Homo sapiens: one gene and its partners. The protein of the gene in region 1 purifies or fractionates together with the protein of each later gene. This does not show direct contact. Each region holds a gene or a part of one and is shown on either strand. Other genes may lie near its edges.

Region 1 (3,500 bases):
TATATCTTAGATTTAGAATCAGCGTTTAATACAAAAAAGTTTTTACAAAAGTGAAAAATCACAATTGGAAAAAGTACCTTACCTCAGGGTAAAGATTGAATCTTTTTAATGTATTAATGACAAGGGGGTATTCAGTCAGTTTATCATTCATAATCATCCATACTCCATTCAAAAATGAGGGTGCTTCCACAATAGTCTTGAAATAGGAATAATATAGTCCCTGAAATAAAGATATGCTCAATTAAAATAACAAAAGGTACATAATTATGATGCCACTTCTAAGTAAATACACTGTTTTTGAAAAACAAAGCAATTAAGTAATAGCTATTAATACAATGAATTTCACAGGTTTCTGATCACTGATAAATCCTAAAGTTGTGAAAAAACTATGTATTTTCACATAAATGCATCTTAATTGAAATAACTGAATGCAAAATAGCTTCAAAAAGTTTCAGCATTTAAAAAATAATACGACTCAGCATACTTCAACTTAGAAAATCCTATTACTTATACTAATATCACTCTTAGAAAATGCTATCTTATGAATAGAGTGAGTGGTTTATTATGGAACTAAAATTTATCATGAACCAAGAAATCTCAAGCCAAAAATACTCCTCTAACTGCTTATTTTAATCCCCAAAATGACACTATCAGTCATTTTTCCTCCGGATTTACATGCAAAAATGCAAATGTGTTGAGAAGGCTACACACTGATGTATTATTACATATGAATTTCACTCGGGTGCCACCTAATTTTACAGATTATTTTCCCTCCTATCAAGTCAGCATAAGGTAAGAACCCTGTGCGACTGGGGATAAGGGTGGGGAGTGGTCCTCTTTTGAAGAAAAGAGACAGTTTTTAGCTTGGCACACTACTTTGGAAAGATAGCAAGGGTGAAATAATATGTGAGACAAAAAAAAAACAAGAAAATACTAGAAGCCTAACGGAGAGTCTAAGTGGCAGTATGAGGGAAGACAGAAACACAAGATAAATCTACGTCTTGTATTTGCATCTTCAGTTTTCCCTGGAGCTGCCCTGGTAGCCAGTACCAGTAGCTGCCAAAGTTTAAACTGGGTTTAAGACTCACAAATACAAAAGAGATATGCCTATCCAGAAACTTATTGAAAAAGAAAAAAATGGTCTTGATACTCTGATGTATCGACTCTGATACCACTATTTTTAAAATTATGTTTCCTTGTGTACTGATTTGGATAGTGTCCCCTAAAATTTCATGTCCACCAGACCCTGTGGAGTGATCTTATTTGGAAATGGGATTCTTGCAGACGTGATCAAGTTAAGATGAGGTCATATTGGATTAAGGTGGACTCTAAACCCAACACAACTGATGTACCTACATAAAGAGGAATATTTGGCCTCAAAGCTACAGGCACACAGGGGAAAAGGCCATGTGAAGAGGGGTCAGAGACTGGGGTGAGGCATCAGCATGCCAAGGAATTCCAAGGATGGCCAGCAACCACCAGAGGCTGAGAAGAGACAAGGAAGGACTCTCCCCTCCAGCCTTCAGAGACAAGATGCCCGTCAACACCTTAATGTCCCACTGCTAATCTCTGGAACTGTGAGAGAATATATTTCTGCTGTTTTAAGCCACCTAGCTTGTTGCACTTCTTTATGACAGCCCTAGGAAACTATACCTTCCTTCTTTTGTAGGTTTGATTTTGGAAACATATGTTTAATTATAAAACAAAAATTTAAAAATCCCTAAATATCAAAATAAAAATGAAAGAAAGGAATTAACTATTTATCAACTTGGAAGAAGATTTCAAGTAACATTAAGATACTGTAATTTTACTGTATATCCCTAGTGGACTATATCCTAAGGTTAAAATGGAGCCCAGGAACTTGGCAGGACTGGTTTCACAAGTTACAGGTCACAAAGACCCTGCTGATAACACAGGATGCGGTGAAGAAGCCAGCCAAAACCTGCCAAAACCAAGATGGCAACTAAAGTGATTTCTGGTCATCCTTAGTGCTCATTATAATACATTAGCATACTAAAGGAAACTCCCACCAGCAGCATGACAGTTTACATATGCCATAGCAACCTCTGGAAGTTACCCTGTATGGTCTGAAAGAGGGAGGAATCCTCAGTTCCAGGAATTCCCCTCCCTGTTCCCAAAATACTCATGAATAATCCACCTCTTGTTTATCATATGATGAAGAGATAACCTTAAAAACAATCAACCAGCAGCCCTCACAGCTGCTCTGCCTGTGGAGCAGCCACCCTTTCATCCCTTTACTTTCTTAAGGTAAACTTCTTTTCACTTTACTCTGTTGGAGCATTCTTGAATTCCTTCCTGCCCAAAGCCAAGAACCCACATGGCCTCCTGGGCTGAGCCCCAATTCTGGGGGTTGCCCTGTGAAGAAGCGAACTGCAAGAAAATCTTAAACTCTTTTCAGTAATCACATTTTTAATTATACCTTTGGTACTTTTATTCCTAACAAATCAATAATTTGAAACCAAGATTCTCAAACTAAAAGATTAATATCAAATAAGTAAAAAAAAATCTAATCTTGTTTCCATTTAAAAAATTAATATAAATTCATGATTTCTTTTCTCTTTAAAAAAATTTTTGTAGCCTAATTCTCTTCAGTAAAAAGGCCAAAATACAATGGCCAATCTAGTAGCAATGAGCATCTGCCACTGACAGAAATGGTGGCTCATGGGAAAACTGGCTGATGCCAGGTCTGAGAAGAAAATGTCTTGTAGTACCTGAAAGTAAGGAAGCCATGGATACTAGTGAGGTCACATCAAGGGCAAACAAGGAGAGCTGCAAGGGCTTTAATAGCTAAAGACAGGAAAGTTTACAAAATATGTTAAAATCCATCATATCATAATGATACTCCAAAAGAAGGTACTCCATTGATCACTACTAGAAGATGCTAGGGAAGCTACTCATTTTTCTGAATATTAGTAAATAAAAAGAAAGAATAAAGCATCTTTCTGACTTTCCTCTATGATATACCTCAGGGAGAAATCAAAAGGTATTGTGTGAAAGTTCTTAATAGAAGAATTATAGCTAATAAGTGCAAAGAAAAAAATGATAGATTAGGTACCACAGTTTGAGAAGGATAATGAAATAACTAACCTAGGCTGATGGCTAGGCTATAGGAGGAATCAGCATCACAATACCTAAAGCCAGTGATCACTCTTAACATCACAGAAAGTGAGACAACCAGATATGATGTGCCTCTTGGCCTGATACAATAGAAGTATACAGCACCACCTAGGAAGTATTCCTGCCAGAAAATAAGTCAAATCTTCTGATCCATAAATGTTCAGGAAACTTGGGATACAGGAACATAATTGAAGAATGAGGATTATTGTGGGTAATTCTATAGGACAAATCAGCTGGATTTCTCAACAAACAAATAGCAGGAAAACAAAACAAAAACAGGTAAAGAAATTCACATATTAAAAGACTTAAGATACACATCAACTAAATGCAATGTGTAGGCACTGTTTGGATCCTATTCAAAC
Region 2 (3,500 bases), on another chromosome or scaffold:
AAATTGGGACAGATATTGAGGTCTGGAGTCTGTGGATTATTGTTGACTTTGACAAAATAAGCTAGACATTTTCACCTTGTTGCCACAGAGACATAACACTACCTCAGGAAGCTGAGCTGCTTTAAGGACAACAACAACAAAATCAGTGTTACAGTATGGATGAAATCTATGTTAAGCATTCTCAGAATAAGGCCAAGTTTTATAGTTGCATCTCAGGGAAGAAAATTTTATAGGATGTTTATGAGTTCTCCAATAAATGCATTCTGCATTACATAAAGCATGTATGTGCATTTCAGTGTCTAGATTCTAGTCCAAGCTTGTTGGAAGGTTTACAGCTTGTTGCTAGGAGACCTAATGACTAAAAATTTCTGGCTCAATTTTCTGCCTCCAAAAATTAAAAGCTAGGGAGAAAATTGCATAATGTCATGAGCATGATGAAACAAATTGTCATATACTTTATCCTTTAATCTTGACAAAGTTAATGTCAGACAGTCTCTGCAACTCATTGACAAACCATGATTTATTTCTTCAGAAAATTATTCCACTTTTACACAATTTCAAAGATGACAGTTGTAAATTACATTGGTACTATTTTGCAAAATCTCTGAAACCAAATCAAAGGTTTGTGTGTGTCAAAAGTATATTGTTGAAGGTATACTGGTGTGTGAAATTCACTTGTGTGGGTTTTTTGTCCCCAAGGGTCACCTGGTAGCTCAGCTCAATGCCAGTGAATCTTAATTTATTAAGACACGTTTAAAGACTTCAGAATCTATATCTACACACTATTACTTCCTTCATAAAATAAGTTTCTTAAATCCTGTACACAGTTGAATATATATTGCTGGATTTGATTTTCATTAGAGCTTTCAAGGATGGTAAATCTTTCATTCTTATACTGTACTTGTTACCACATACAAAGAGGCTGGCTTAGTTCCTGTCTGCAGCTATGTGAGATTCAGTCTTGATTTTCAAAATTCAGTCATATTTTTAAAGTGAATTTATTTCTACTCTGTGTCATTCACAGAAGAAGTGAGACAGATATTTTGATATTCGCAATCTCTCACTTAGACAAATAATCCAGATCCTACCTCATTGTATAGCTCTGTTTCTTTTGAAGAACTTTATCCAAATAAGTTACAATAATATTTTACATCTATCAATAAAATAAACAAAACTAACAAGCTTGGCAACCACCTTGTATTTACAAAAGGATCATGAAGATTTTTTTAAACGAACATTTTCATAGTTGCATAGTCTTGCTCAAACCAAGATGGCTTTTATTTGTAAACCGAAATCTCTAGTGGTATGCTGGTAAACGAACTTTATGGAAAGTAAAAAACAAAAAAACAAAAACAAACTCTGATTTGTCAATTTGCCAATTTCTGTGGTGTAAACACACTCACCGCTGACACTTGATAGATGTTTTTATTGAAATTCCTTCACCAAAGGAATATTTACTTGTGAATCTCTAAGCCCACACACATACACAAATACCATTCTGTACAAACATACGTATTTAATAATTTGATTCTTCTGCTCAATACTCAAAGGGGGCTGGGAGGAACAGTTTGTCTCCTAGGGCATGACATAGACTGGACAGTCTTTTTATAAGAGTGATACAACTGGGAAGGGAGAACGCTGTTTCAGAAGATAACTCAGATCCTCTTCTTCAGGAAAGACTGAGTTTGGAACACCAGGGCTTTTTTTTTTTTTTTTTTTTTTGAGACAGGGTCTCGCTGTGTTGCCCTGGCTGCTCTCAAACTCCTGAGTTCAAGTGATCCTCCCACCTCAGCCTCCCAAGTAGCTGGGATTACAGGCATGTACCACTGTGCCTAGCTGAAACATCAGTTTCTGACTGAAGTGGAGACTACAACAACTTTAGTGTTTCCCTTAGAAGGATTACGGCCATGGTGAACTTGACTGAGTAAACAATGCTATAAATAAAAAGCTCTTCCAAAACATTAACCATGGTAAGCATCATTATCCCCATAAAATGGTGGCATCCAGGTTAAATGGCCCACAGACCAAAAGTCTAAAATGAAGATAGAATCCAGTCGTTAACTTTTTCTGTATCTCCATCGGTGTGGTCACAAGGATTACAATGCTTTCCTTAGCATTAATTCAATCTGGGAAAATTTTAATCTCCGTGCAATATCCAGTGAGCTCTCACCATGCTGAGGGGGGAAAAATATACAGTTATTTCCAATAGAGTGCCCAAGATCTCGTACGTAGCTTAGACCAATTGACTCTCTGTGTTGGCAAGGGCTTTAAAAGGCAATCAGTCCTAATAGTAATAGGATAACTTCATTCCTTAATGAGGATGATTAATTTTACTGTTGTTTACGTCAGAGGCAAATAATTTACTTCAACATAAGGCCTAGATTAGAAGATGCTGCTGCTAGAGGAACCTCAGACCACGGTCCACCCTCCCTTACCTTATTCTTTATTGTGGGGTCTGCACGGGCTTCCAAGAGCAGAGGGATAAGAGACTGGTTTTTCATTTCACAGGCATAATGTAATGCGGTACAGCCATACTGAAACACAAAGGGCCAAAACTTCAGCTCATAAGTCGGGCCCTCCACAGACCATAGCATGTGGCTTCATTGGCAAATCCTTTTCACACTTTGTAGTATACAACTAAGCAGAAAAATAGTCTGCAAACCATTGATAGACAACTATTTCTAGTACTTAAAAAATTTTTCGCCGGGCGCGGTGGCTCACGCCTGTAATCCCAGCACTTTGGGAGGCCGAGGCGGGCGGATCACGAGGTCAGAGGATCGAGACCGTCCTGGCTAACACGGTGAAACCCTGTCTCTACTAAAAGATACAAAAAATTAGCCGGGCGCGGTGGCGGGTGCCTGTAGTCCCAGCTACTCCGGAGGCTGAGGCAGGAGAATGGCTCGAACCCGGGAGGCGGAGCTTGCAGTGAGCCGAGATTGCGCCACTGCGCTCCAGCCTGGGCGACAGAGCGAGACTCCGTCTCAAAAAAAAAAAAAAAAAAATTTCTTCTCTGTCTCAATGTATATGTATGTTAGTGTCATATAAGCCATCAATCTCTGCCTTTTTGTTTTCCATTTTCTGTTCTAAAGAATGCAACTTAAAAAAGCTGATGCTGAATTGTGCCAAAGTTTCTTTGTCGCATGCTATATGCCTCGGTGATCATCACCTTGATCATGTCACCATCTTTCCCTTAAAGAGTCTCCACATGGCCCTTTACATAAACATTATCCTCTATGGTTTTGGTGATGATTCCTACTGAAGAAGTCGGGTGCTCTTGCTGCAGGACACCTGCAAGATCAGTGCAGTTCTACAGAGACATTTCCCAAACGTGATTTGTTATAGCTTATATTATGTGTTATAAGCTAGTGCATCTACTCTGTTGGTACTAATTTAAAACACTACAGGTCAAAAAAATTATAGCTAGGGCATTAGTGTCCAAAATTTGGCCTTTGGAAAAGTAGCCAAGCAACCATGGTGCTGGTGAGTGAAGAAATAGTACC
Region 3 (3,500 bases), on another chromosome or scaffold:
ATACATGAAGAAAAAAATGCCTCAACTTTTGTGAATACTGACTCACAATGTCAAATAATCAGCAAAATTATAAGGCTAATTATAAAGTTTATCTGATCCATGACTGTCAATGAGATATTTTAATATTTCTTCTCAGTAAATTTAAAAAAACAGTATTTGTTAGTAGATAAATTGTTAGAAATTGTTTATTAACTGCTTTCGAAGAAACATGTCCAGCAACTTTGAGGAAAAAATGTGCACATTATTTTTAATCACATACAATCAAACATAATTGGTAATGTACCGAAGATTACATTCAGCCGTGAGTAACAGGAAACACCCACAATATTCCTGATATGAGGAAAGTGCTTATTCTCACATCAAAGTACTGGGTGAAACCAGTCACTGCACAATGCGGCAGAGGAACAAATTCCCATGTAGCTGTTTTTTTTTTTTTTTTTTTTAGACGGAGTCTTGCTTTTGTCGCTTGAACCGGGACGGGTTCAAGTGGTCCCAGTTGATGCTGGAGTGCAGTGGTGTGATCTCAGCTCACTGCAAGCTCCACCTCCCAGGTTTACGCCATTCTCCTGCCTCAGCCTCCCAAGTAGCTGGGACTACAGGTGGCCACCACCACTCTTGGCTTTTTTTTTTTTTTTAAGTAGAGACGGGTTTCACCGCATTAGCCAGGATGGTCTCCATCTCCTGAACTCGTAGATCCGCCTGCCTCAGCCTCCCAGAGTGCTGGGATTACAGGTATGAGCCACCGTGCCCAGCCCCACGTAGCTGTTTTTGACAGTACCATTGTAGCTGTCATCTTGAATCAGGAACAGTCAATACCAGTATGAACAGAGGAGTTTACTATACAAATCAGATCTTCTATCAATTTAATCCATAGACTAGGGGAGTCAGATCATCAGAGGATATTCCCAACCATGAGAGTCTGAACAGGTTGTCCGGTACACGTTAGGGCTTGCAGGAAAATCTTAAGTGCAGACGGATTTTTAGTATGAGTTGTTTTGAGCCACTATTTTTTTTTTTTTTTAGACAGGGTCTTGCTCTGTAGCCCAGGCTGGAGTGCAGTGGCACGATCTCACTCACTGCAACCTCTGCCTCCCAGGTTCATGTGATTCTCCCACCTCAGCCTCCTGAGTAGCTGGGGCTACAGGTACAAGCCACCAAGCCTGGCTAATTTTTGTGGGGTTTTTTTTGCAGAGATGGAGTTTTCCCATATTGCGCAGGCTGGTCTGGAACTCCTGAGCTCAGTGATCCACCTGCCTCAACCTCCCAAAGTGCTGGGATTACAGACGTGAGCCACTACACCCAGCCCAAGCCAATAAATTTGTGGTAATTTGTTACAAGAGCAATAGGAAACTAACATGATATACAAAACACATTTTTCAGGCAATTAAAAACAGATAATGGGATGTACATTATGTTCTTACTAAACTCACAAGTATTTAACTTTACAGTTCAAATAGGACAGCATAATTTGATACCAAGTCCAAAGCTCTGAAAGATTACAATTAAGTCCCTCCCACCTGAAATTAAGTATACAAAAGACTATTAGGGGCTGGGCGCAGTGGCTCACACCTGTAATCCCAGCACTTTGGGAGGCCAAGGTGGGCGGATCATCAGGTCAGGAGTTCGAGACCATCCTGGCTAACATGGTAAAACCCCGTCTCTACTAAAAGTACAAAAAAAAAAATTAGCCGGGCATGGTGGCGGGCGCCTGTAGTCCCAGCTACTCGGGAGGCTGAGGCAGGAGAATGGCGTGAACCCGGGAGGCGGAGCTTGCAGTGAGCCGAGATTGCGCCACTGCACTCCATCCTGGGCGACAGAGCAAGACTCCGTCTCAAAAAAAAAAAAAAAAAAAGACTATTAGGCTCACACCTCAATTGCTATTTTATAGGAGAAATCATATTTTTTCTCTTCTCTCTGGAGGCAAAGGAAAGTACCAAATTATTTCAATGTCCCTTCTAGCCTTCATTTAATGAAAGAAGGCCATAAAATCTACGGCGTGGAAAGGATGTTAAAGATAGGTGATTGAATTGCAAACTAAATCTCAAATCCTCTCTACAATATCCACCCAGCAATTGCTAACCTATGCTTGAATACTTCCTGGTGATAAGAACTCACTGTCCCAAAGCAGTCTAATCCATCTTTGAATAGCTGTGATTCTTAGCTCTTTATTCTGAGGTGGTATCTCTCAACTCCATCCACAGGGTTTATTTCCTGTCCTCAGCATTAACTAAAACACATCTAACTAATTAGACCTCAAGAAAGTCACAAAATATGTATTGTGTTTGCCCTGAGTTCTCTATTCTCTTGGCTACACATTCCCAGCTTAGTCAATCATACTTCAAATTTAAATTTAATTCCCAGCTCTGCTATTAAGTATATAACATGGACAAGTTATTTAATCTTTTGAAATCTGTTTTGTTATCAATAAAATAAATACTGCTCCTTAGGGTTCATATGAGTGTTAGAAATGTGTCCCAAAATCTTTGTATAGTGCCTGCACAGAGCAGACACTGACTAAACAGCAGCCATTATGATAATAATGGCAGGGACTTGAATTCCCACTAGGTACAAGTTGCTCTCTTCTGAATGAGCTCCATTTTGTTTTTAACCCTAAAGGATGATGCCTCAAACAAGCAGTATCCACGGCTTGTTTGAGGTGTACTCCTTGGTGCAGAGGAGAGCAGGACTATCTCTCTCTTTCCCTCATCCTAGTTACCATATTTCCACCAAAGCAGCCTAAGATCAAATCTGTTTTATTTCATGGCCATATCACACTGTTGCCTCACAGAGAATACACTTTGATTAAAATCCATCTTTTAGAAATATTAAAACTGGGCCAGGCGTGGTGGTTCACGCCTGTAATCCCAGTACTTTGAGAGGCCGGGTGGGCAGATCACCTGATGTTGGGAGTTTGGGACCAGCCTGACCCAACATGGAGAAACCCCATCTCTACTAAAAATACAAAAATTAGCCGGGTGTGGTGGTGCACACCTGTAATCCCAGCTACTTGGGAGGCTGAGGCAGGAGAATCGCTTGAACCCAGAAGGCAGAGGTTGCAGTGAGCTGAGATCGCACCACTGCACTCTAGCCTGGGCACCAAGAGTGAAACTCCGTCTCCAAAAAAAACCAAATATTAAAACTGAAAAACCAACTAGGTGCAGCAGCTCACGCCTGTAATCCCAGCACTTTGGGAGGCCGAGGTGGATGGATCACAAGGTCAGGAGTTCAAGACCAGCCTAGCCAACATAGTGAAACCCTGTCTCTACTAAAAATACAAAGATTAGCTGGGTGGGGTGGCACGTGCCTGTAGTCCCAGCTACTCGGGAGGCTGAGGCAAGAGAATAGTCTGAACCTAGGAGGCGGAGGTTGCAGTAAGCCAAGACTGGGCCATTCCACTCCAGCCTGGGCAACAGAGCAAGACTCTGTCTCCCAAAAAAAAAAAAAAAAAAGGATAATACAATGCAGTATTCCTAAATCAATGAGTAGGAAACACTCTGGGA
Region 4 (3,500 bases), on another chromosome or scaffold:
GTGGTACATATGAATAAAAAATATTGCTCTGTCTTTTCTGTGTTTTTTTCATTCAGAATTACTAGAAATAATAAATATGATTGACTATGGGTTCATGATCATTGAACTTTACATCACTTGCCTTTTTGTTTTGCATGTAGGAATTGAACAAATCTCTGTAACCTCTTTTTACAGTATACTGCACCTGAAACCGGTCGTATCAGGAAAGGAAATGATAAAGCAGAGGATTTTATTTTTCAGTTCTGAAACAAACTTCTAACCATATCTTTGTGCCCGAGGCCCCAGTTTTAACAGTTGACATGCTGGTGAAAGGGAAGAATTGCAGTTGTTTTAGTACCCTAAATGTACAAGGCAACTTTTTTCTTCTTTCCAAGAATTATATTTTGGGAATCCTCTTGGAATGTATTATCAGGTGATAGAATTATGGCTCCCTTTAAATATGTTTTACAGGAAAATTTGGCCAAATATTCTTGTTTTATTTTCATATTTTTAGGTGCAGGTGGTACCATTATAACGAATTTTGAGAGGTTGGTAAAAGGAGATTGGAAACCAGAAGGTGATGAATGGCTGAAGATGTCATAGTAAGTTGGTATAAATTATACTGAGACCTAGATGTTTATCCTTAGATCTTACCAAATTCCTTTTTAAGAACATTTTAGGGACTTTAAATGTGGGTGGAATATAGCTGAAAATATAAATAGTAATGATAATGGGAAGAGAACTAGCAAATTTTGTTCTTTTAAAAAGTCTGCTTTCTCAAATGTAGTTTAAAATATATATTTTCCTTCTCTGTGGGTTTCTCTCCTTAGAAAACAAAATCAAACAAAAACCTCTAGATTATAGTAGAATTGTGGGAAAAGTATATATTTATAAAGTGAAAGCTACGTAGGAATAGACTTCTCTGGATGAAAATGAATCGGTGATAGGCTCTTGGCATTTTCATTAATGACTATGACATCATCCAGATTTCAGGCTATATATGTAGTTCTGATAGTAAAATGTTAAGTTTATGGGATCAAATCAATACATTATCATAAAGTGCTTTGAGTTGCTTTAAAAAATGTCAGTTGAGCTTAATTACAGATTAAAATAAGAGAAAGATTAGAGAAATAACCCATTGTGTGATACAAACTGCCTTTTGCATCTATTTAAGATAATCTGTTCTCTGAAGACACTGACTTAGTCTTATTTATTACTTTTTTAAAGAGACAGATTCTGTTGTTCAGGCTTTAGTGCGATGGTGTAGTCATAGCTCACTGCAGCCTAGACCTCTTAGGCTCAAGTAATCCTCCCACTTCAGCCTCCCAAGTATTAATAGTTGGGACTACAGGTGTGTGCTATCATGCCTGGCTAATTTTTGTAATTGTATTTTTTTTTTTTTTTTGAGACAGGGTTTTATTCTGTCACCCAGGCTAGAGTGCAGTCACTGCAGTCTTGATCTCTTGGGCTCAAGTGATCCTTCCACCTCAGCCTCCTGAGTAGTTGTGACTACAGGCATCTGCCATCATGCCCTGCTACTTTTAAAAATTTTTGTAGAGACAGGGTCTCATCTCAGTATGTTGCCTTGGCTGGTCTTGAATTCCTGGGCTCAAGCGATCCTTGTACTTTGGCCTCCAAAAGTGCTGGGATTACAGATGTGAAGCACCACACCCAGCCAGTATTTTTATTTTTGTAGAGATGGGGTCTTGCTGTGTTGCCCAGGCTGGTCTTAACTTTTGCCTCAAGTGATCTTCCTTCCTTAGCCTCCCAAGGGGCAGGGATTACAGGCATGAGCCACTGTGCCTGGCCGAACTCAGTCTTTATTTTGTTTTGAGTCAGAGTTTCGCTGTTGTCACCCAGACCAGAGTGCAATGGTGTGGTCTCGGGCTCACTGCAACCTCCGCCTCCCAGGTTCAAGCAGTTCTCCTGCCTCAGCCTCCTAAGTACCTGGGATTTTGGGCGTGTGCCACCATGCCCAGCTAATTTTTGTATTTTTAGTTGAGATGTGGTTTCACCATGTTGGCCAGGCTGGCCTCAAACTCCTGACCTCAGGTGATCCACCCACCTTGGCCTCCCAAAGTGCTGGGATTACAGGCTTGAGCCACTGTGCCTGGCCCAGACTCAGTCTTAAATAAGTCACAGATACGTTTCTCATGTACCTAAAAATGAGGTAGAGAAGTATAGTTACTGTTCCCATAATTCAAGAAGGAAAAGACTTAGAGAATGGTGGCTGTAATAAGCAAGGTGAGGAAAGACTTCATGTAAAAATAAGCTCATTTTCTAATTTAAATTGGATTAAAAATAGATTATAATGGATTGAAAATGAAGGTTGAGGCTGGGCACGGTGGCGTATGCCTGTAATCCTAGCACTTTGGGAGGCCGAGGCAGGCGTCAGGAGTTCGACACGAGCCTGGGCAACATGGTGAAACCCCGTCTCTACTAAAAATACAAAAACTAACTGGGCGTGATGGCATATACCTATAATCCCAGCTACTCAGGAGGCTGAGGCAGGAGAATCACTTGAACCTGGGAGGCAGAAGTTGCAATGAGCTGAGATCGCACCACTGCACTCCAGCCTGGGTGACAGAGGTGAGACTCTGTCTCAAAAAAAAAAAAAAGAAGAAGGTGGAAAGGCAGTACAAGTGATGAAGTACATTTGTGTGAACTAACAAATTTCGGGATATTTAACTTGAAAAATACCCCTTTAAGTTTGAATGAAGTAGTTTAGAAATAGAACAAAGGAAGCTTTGATTAACGATAAGTTATAAATAAGATACTCTTGATATTCAGGGGAGATTTTTCTCATTTTGAGTATATGCCTTGAAACACCTTCCATAAAACATTTTTTTGGGCTTTTATAACCAAAATCAAATTATGTTTCTACTTTGTTCAGAAACCTTGCATTGATTCCTCCAAACGGCCTATAAGTCCCTCCAAATGTGCCTTTCCTCCTTTCCAGTTTGCTTTGATTTCATCTCTTGTTATTATTTCCCTTGCTCACTCTACTCCATGCTTGAGCAAGTCAAGTATGGTCTAGTTTAGCACTAGCTTTTGTCACTACCTAGAACGATTTTTCTTAGATGGCTAACTCCCTTATTTACTTTGCTCAAAGTATTTTCTCAATGCTTCCTTCTCAGTGAGGACTAACCTGCTTAAAATTGCAACACCTCGTTCTATTTTACTTTTTTTACAACATTTATCACCTTCTAACATGTTATGTAATTTACTTAATCATTATGTTTATTCTCCCCTCCCCTTGGCTCCTCCTCCCACCCTTCAACGAATATAAAATGCTAGGGACAGATATTTTTGTCTCTTTTGAATGCTCTTGTGTCCCAAGCACCTAGCACATAGTAGATAATACATACTAGATGACTGTATGAATTATCAACAACTGGGTCAAGTGAGATAGATCACTGGTTCATTATGATGGTTTGTGTTTATGTATATAGTCATGTGTTGCTTAACGATGGGGATATGTTCTCAGAAATGTGTCATTTCATCATTATGTGAATGTTATC

Evidence for each region. Proteins that work in one complex are often made in the same cells at the same time.
Region 2: the proteins of DPY19L1 (region 1) and ANKRD22 purify together in Homo sapiens (co-immunoprecipitation; one large-scale study listed by IntAct). This does not show direct contact.
Region 3: the proteins of DPY19L1 (region 1) and ACBD3 purify together in Homo sapiens (pull-down; one large-scale study listed by IntAct). This does not show direct contact.
Region 4: the proteins of DPY19L1 (region 1) and TMEM38B fractionate together in Homo sapiens (co-fractionation; one large-scale study listed by BioGRID). This does not show direct contact.

Annotation. Positions count from the first base shown.
Region 1 is NC_000007.14:35,013,486-35,016,985, forward strand, and holds part of DPY19L1 (protein C-mannosyl-transferase DPY19L1), read right to left. Parts: intron 221-3,500; coding exon 83-220; intron 1-82. UniProt on the Homo sapiens protein: C-mannosyltransferase that mediates the C-mannosylation tryptophan residues on target proteins.
Region 2 is NC_000010.11:88,820,845-88,824,344, forward strand, and holds part of ANKRD22 (ankyrin repeat domain-containing protein 22), read right to left. Parts: intron 2,535-3,500; coding exon 2,436-2,534; intron 2,175-2,435; coding exon 2,097-2,174; 3' UTR 1-2,096.
Region 3 is NC_000001.11:226,176,742-226,180,241, forward strand, and holds part of ACBD3 (Golgi resident protein GCP60), read right to left. Parts: intron 1-3,500. UniProt on the Homo sapiens protein: Involved in the maintenance of Golgi structure by interacting with giantin, affecting protein transport between the endoplasmic reticulum and Golgi. Involved in hormone-induced steroid biosynthesis in testicular Leydig cells.
Region 4 is NC_000009.12:105,722,041-105,725,540, forward strand, and holds part of TMEM38B (trimeric intracellular cation channel type B), read left to right. Parts: intron 1-493; coding exon 494-581; intron 582-3,500. UniProt on the Homo sapiens protein: Intracellular monovalent cation channel required for maintenance of rapid intracellular calcium release. Acts as a potassium counter-ion channel that functions in synchronization with calcium release from intracellular stores.